Linked DNA regions of Homo sapiens: region 2 is linked to region 1. The links come from fine-mapping of genetic effects on gene expression. A gene starts in region 1. The other region holds a variant in brackets. All regions are shown on one strand. Distances are between the middles of the regions.

Region 1 (2,909 bases):
AATTATATTTTCAATGTAAACCACTCCTTGGAGGAAATTAGTTCCTTTAACATTTATTTCCTAATTTTAATTTCTACTAGTTTTATCTCTTTCAAGCTTAAATGAGTGGGCCTTAGTTCTGTATTATTGCCATCTTAATCATGTTCTTTGTGATTTTAGTAGCTTTACTTTTTAAAACTTACATTTCCATAATGAAGACTTCTGTATTTTTGTTTTTTTCGTCATATATCCGACTCCAGCTCCCTCAAGACCTGTCAGCTTTTCCCTGCACCCTTTGTTATCTCTTGCTGTGGTCCAAAGGTAAGGACAGTAAGCCGTGGGCACAGACTTTCCCTAAATCGTATGGATTTCCTTTAGTCAATAACAAGAATTTTGATAGTTAAGGCATTTACGCCTTAAGAATGTGATAAATTCCCCCTCCTACTGAATGTAAAGAACTATTTTTCTACGCAGACTAACTCTTATATTCACTTTTCTTATAGAATAAGTACGTAACCAAATCTGTTCTTGGCTTCTAAGAAGTTAGAACTCAACGTAAAGATGACTTGTGGAAAATTACTTACTCATTCTGGGTAAATGGACGCAGGTATTTAGTGCTTAAGTAGGTTCTGATATACCATTACATTAACATCATTTTAAAAATCGCTCTGAATTATATGTATTTTAAGAGTGACTGGGTTTTAAAAAAAATAGAAGTGGTAGAGCATAAATCATAATCTTTAATAAGGTAATAAAAGGCAAACACTATTGCTCTGGGCAAAACTGGGCTAATGCTTTTGGATTTCTTTCCGCAGTCTTCACAGACGACGCTCAGCATCCTATCAGCCCTTGGCAGAGACACACGATCCAGCCTAAATCCTCAAATTCTGGCTCTTGCCCAAAGTGTGTAGCCAGTATCCATAGAGACTGCGAAAAGCATCCGCGAGCCGGGGCGGCCCCCTCCTCCTCAGCTCCAAATTGCTTCCTTTTTCGGTGGGAGAAAAAACTCCGAGGAGTTGTGTGAGCGCCTAAGGAGCGCACGCTCCTCCGGCCCTCAACACCCAGTATAGTTTTCGCTAAGTTCCTGGCCGAACCACAGCTCCCACGATGCACCCAGGTTTTAGAGCGGTCAGAGGGGCGGCTTCCGGTTTAGGACAGCGCGGCTGCGCACGGCGTGTGGTCTTATTGGCTCGAACCGCCTCGTGCGATGCGCGTCACGGCGACGTGCGGTCGTGGGGGCGGGGAGACGCGGCGGCGGCGGTCGCTGTCGCGGCGGCGAGAGCGCGATTCCAGAAGCGGCATCGCGGCGGCGGCAGCGGCGGCGGCTACACCGGGCTTGGCCCCCTCCCTCCTCCGTTCCCCCCTCCTCCCCCCTCCCCTCAGCGGTGGCTCCCAAGAAGTCCGAGACACGCGGTGAGGCGGCGACGGGCTCCGGGTGAGGGTCTCTGGAGTGTGGGCGCCGTTTCCTGGGCGCAGAGGGAGAGCTTGGGGTCGGGGGGAGGTGAGAGCTGAGGGGCGAATGTCCCTGGCGCGGGCGGGAGAGCGCGCTCTCGGCCCGGCCCGCAACTTGATTCCTAACTCTGACCTGCCGCCCGGCGCGCCTTGGCCTGAGGGTCGGCCGTGTGGGGACCTGGAGCCGCCCTCCTTGCGACCGCTGTCGGAGGAGTCCGGCGCCCGCTGTTCCCCTCGCCTCGCCTTTCGCGGCGGAGGGTCGGAGCCTGCTGCCCTCTGCTCACCTTCGGGTGCAGTTGCTCCAGCTCCCTGCCCGCGGAGAGGATCTGCCCGCCCCTCTTCGTCTCTTGTCTGTTTTTATCACTTCTAGGAATTTGTTTGGTGGAGGCTTGGGATGGGCTCTCTCAGCGCTACTTTCACAGTGACTGGGGTGGGGAAGAGTTCCCTCACCTTTTTCAGGTGGCGCGTCAGGCAGCCTGCTTGGTACCTGGAGTCCTGTTTTCCCAAGCCCCCGTCCGTCAGTGTTCGCTTCTTCTAAAATTACCGATGACAGGGTTATAAATCAGTTTTTAGGGGGCTCGGAGAGAGTTTGGGTTGGAAACTGTTAGCTCTTTTTTCCTCCTGGCTTTTGATCTTGATTTAAGCGTTTGCCTCTGAAATTTTGACAACTTCATAAGATGGTCCAAAAGTGAATTTTGGTAGAAAGATTTAAATGCACAGTTGGGATTTTATGGGGGTACGGTGACTTCATTGCAGGTTGTTGACTTTTTTTTTAAAATAAGATGTTCTTTTAATTTTTTGACTCTGGGTTTCTGAGCCTTGGTTATTGTCCCCCATTTCTGTTCCAAAAGCAGACTTTTTTTTTTTTTATCACCCCTTCCCCTCACCCAGAGAATCCCTTTAAACGCCAAGAAAGCTGTCATAACATTTAGCATTATTTGATCACAGAACTTTTCCAAATGAAATGCTAAAAATTCCTTCAGAAAAAAGCATCCATCTACCCATAGCATTATTTTTTGGGGGGAGGCTATACGTCTTGTCAGTTCTGAAAGTTTGAAGTGACCTCTTATCAAAGGCCACCCTTATGTCTCCTTAAACGACTCTTAGGTAATTCCTAGATGTTTTCATCCGTTCTGATAAATTTGTTGTCAGAGTGTTGATTGTGATGATCTGCAACTAAAATTATTTCATCAGTAAAGATTTCCACACATGTGGCAGCTGCTTGTTGGTGAATTATGAAATTTGAAAAAATTGCAAATTAAATGTGAAAGGCATATTTCTTTTAACTTCTGATTGTAACTGTCTGTCCTCCAGTATACGTTCCTATCTAGACTTTGGTCTGCTTAGCAGATTTCCTCTTTTCACTTGACACTAGGAATGGGAGTAGGATTTCCAGAGCCTAAAAGAGAGTTTGTTTTTTTTTTCTATCCCTAGGCTCCTTGTATGAATTTATAAATAAATGGTTTTTTCTATCAATA
Region 2 (2,909 bases), 450 kb after region 1:
CTGCGTCGGTCACGCTGAGAGCTGTAGACCGGAGCTGTTCCTATTCGGCCATCTTGGCTCCTCCTCGAGACCTTTCTTGTAATCACCCCATTTTAAAGATGAGGAAGGGGCACAGGGCAATGAACTAACTTGCCCAAGTTTGCATAGCTATGAAGCAGTGGAGCTGGGATTCCAGCCTGGGTGTGTGGCTCCCAAGTCTGTGCTTTTAACTGCTATGCTGTGTGGCCCCCAACTAAGGTATAAATGGGAGGGGTATTTTGCTTTGAATACGATGCCTTAATTATCAGGCCTTCAACTAGAGTTTATGCAGTGTGTGCGCTTCTGTCTTTACCAAGAGGACCAAGGGAGGAGCAACAGTGAAGGAGGGAGTGAACGTCCCCAGGCTGGGTGGTGTCTGTAGGGGTCCTGGGGGCATGCCATGGAGCCCCCAGGCCATGCCATTTGGAAAGCATAAGGGGTAGGCAAAGGGGAGGCCTTTTCATCTGCTACTACCTGAGAGGTAGACTTGGCTTTGAGGCCATATTTTCCCAGGGATCAGTGATTCATATTACCTGAGATCCTCAACCAAACAGGCCCCCGGGCCTCTTCCTAAATAGATGAGAATCTCTGGTTGGGGTGAGGGAACCCAGAATCAGCCTGACTTTCTGAGACAAACTTAAAACTTGAGGGACCCTTCTCGTGGACTGAGTCCTTGGAAGCAGATCTTGGGAGCTGCTGGGCCTGCATTTGAACTTGGGGCCTTCATGGGACCCCAGTCAGTACTGGTGGTTGGCAGGGCTCAGAGCATAACATGTGGGGGACCCCACGGCGCCCCGCCCAGGTGAGAGCAGTCCCCCTCTCGTGCCGAGAGGCTCCACAGGTTTTGCCTGTGCACCCTAGGCCCCACTGGAGACGTGGAAACATCGAAGAGCTACGGCCTGAACACCAGGATGTGGGATGGGTAGTAAGAGAGTGCTGAGCTGCATGTCCTAGCCCTGGGCTCTGGTTCCAGTTCTACCTCTGCCTGGTGGCACGGCCTTGTCACTTCACTTCTCTGAGTTTTAGGTTTCTCGGCTGTGAAATAAAGATAATAATTCCTACCTCACTGAGTTATGGCAAGGGCAAATGAGAATATAGATAGAAATGCTCCGCCCAGCTCTACCAAAAAAAAAAGTATATATATACACACACATACACACACATTAGCTGGGCATGGTGGCTTGCACCTGTAGTTTTAGCTGCTTGGGAGGCTGAGACGGGAGGAGTGCTTCAACCCAGGAGTTCAAGGCAGCAGTGAGCTATGATTACACCAGGGTGATGGGGCGAGACCCCATGTTTATTTTTTAAAATGCTCTGGAAAAATGCAAAGTGCCATATAAACATAGAGGCATTATTGTGATCATTATTACTGTTATGATTCAAACTAGACAGATATATTTGTCTCTAAAATACTTACTGTTTTTTTTTTTCTGGCACATTCCTCTGTGAACCTTTTTCCTCAGCCTCCTCTCAAGATAACTTAGAGATGCAAAAGAACTAGAAGCCAAGTTCCAAATTTAGTTCTTGACCTTTCCAAGATGGGTGGTGAGTGGTGTG[G/C]CTGCAACCTGCCTGCTGCCAAGAGTCTGGCAGGGCTGCCGGGGTCCGGGAGCGCCAGGCCAGTGGACCCTGTCTTTGTGTGCAGTCCTGGAGCCGACACATCGCCTCACACAGGCGCCCCTGCCGGGAGCTCATGCGGGCCACTCCCTGTTTTCTCACTGGGTCTAGCTGAACTCTGGCACAGCGAGTGTAGCTGCTGAGTAGTTCGTTTGGTGCTGTCCTGTGACTTGCAAACCCCTTCCTCAAATGCATAGCAGAAATAGTGGGAAAACCCCAGGGCTTTTATTATCTGGGCTCTCGGGCACACAGTCAGAAACATGGCCTGGGGCAGCCTCTCTTCTCTGTGCCTTTGAGTCCTGAGGAACAAGGTCAGGCATCAAGAATAAGGAAGGCCAGGATATCCAGGAGGAGACCTCACGTCTGCACCGAGGCTTCATCAGATCTGACTGGAAGTGCTGTGGTCCCTGTGGCCAGGCCAGCCTTCACAGGGCTGGGGAGCACAAGCCTTGGTGTGGCCTGTGCTTGCAGATGGATCCTGGTTGTGTGGGGGAAGGCAGGTGGCAGGTGGTGGATGCTATGCTTGAGGGCTGGGCTGTGTACGCAGCTCACAGTGTGGAGGTGCTTGAACCCTGGCAGTTGGGCACGGTTGATAGGGACGGGCCTTGTGGGAGAAGGTGTCGAAGGCCAGGGTGTGGCTCCGAGTCCCACTTCTGCTAGACTGACCAGAGAGAGCAGGTAAGAGAGTGACCAGCAGCAGGCCGGGGTCACTTCCACGCTTCCTGCCCATCGGAGGAATGTTCCAGAGGTTATCCCAGAGAGAGGTGAAGCCCAACATGGTCTTTCAGCCACACGCCGGGCTCCCCTTCCCCTTCTGCCATGAGTGGAAGCAGCCTGAGGCCCTCACCAGAAGCAGATGCTAGAGCCATGCCTCTTGTGCGGCCTGCAGAACCGTGAGCCAAATACGCCTCTTTTCTTTTTAAGTAACCCTGCCTCAGGTATTCCTTTATAGCAACACAAATGGACTTAGACAATCCCCAAGGCCCAGACTTGGAGTCCCTTCTTGTAGGAAGTTTTCTCTGCTCCTCCATGACTGGCTTTGGTGCTGCCCTCTGTGTTTCCATAGCATTCTAGATGACCCCTATCAAAGCACATTTAGCCTCCTGCTTACTCATCTGCGTCTCTCAGTGTGTTTGTTTTCTAGCACTGCTGTGAAAATACCATGCATTTGGTGGCTTAAAACAATAGAAATTTATTGTCTCACAGTTCCAGAGGCCAGAGTTTCAAAGTCCAGGTGTTAGTAGCATTGGTTCCTCTGGGCACTCTGAGGAGTGTGT

What was found. PIP is the estimated chance that this variant, and not a neighbour inherited with it, causes the effect.
Region 2: its variant is fine-mapped to the expression of ADIPOR2 in sigmoid colon (GTEx, PIP above 0.99).

The regions. Positions count from the first base shown.
Region 1 is chr12:1,689,800-1,692,708 of GRCh38, forward strand. It overlaps ADIPOR2 (adiponectin receptor 2), which reads left to right and starts at 1,271. Exons shown (of 8, transcript NM_024551.3): 1 at 1,271-1,392. RefSeq lists enhancers at 774-933, 954-1,003, 1,087-1,665 and silencers at 1,164-1,463, 1,484-1,573.
Region 2 is chr12:2,136,256-2,139,164 of GRCh38, forward strand. The region is part of intron 3 of CACNA1C (calcium voltage-gated channel subunit alpha1 C); the gene reads left to right. All of the region lies in intron 1 of LOC107984131 (a long non-coding RNA gene), which reads left to right. Among named protein-coding and RNA genes, the nearest start is that of CACNA1C, 85 kb to the left of the region's middle. RefSeq lists enhancers at 1-71, 868-1,663. The variant G/C (reference allele first, on the strand shown) is at 1,576.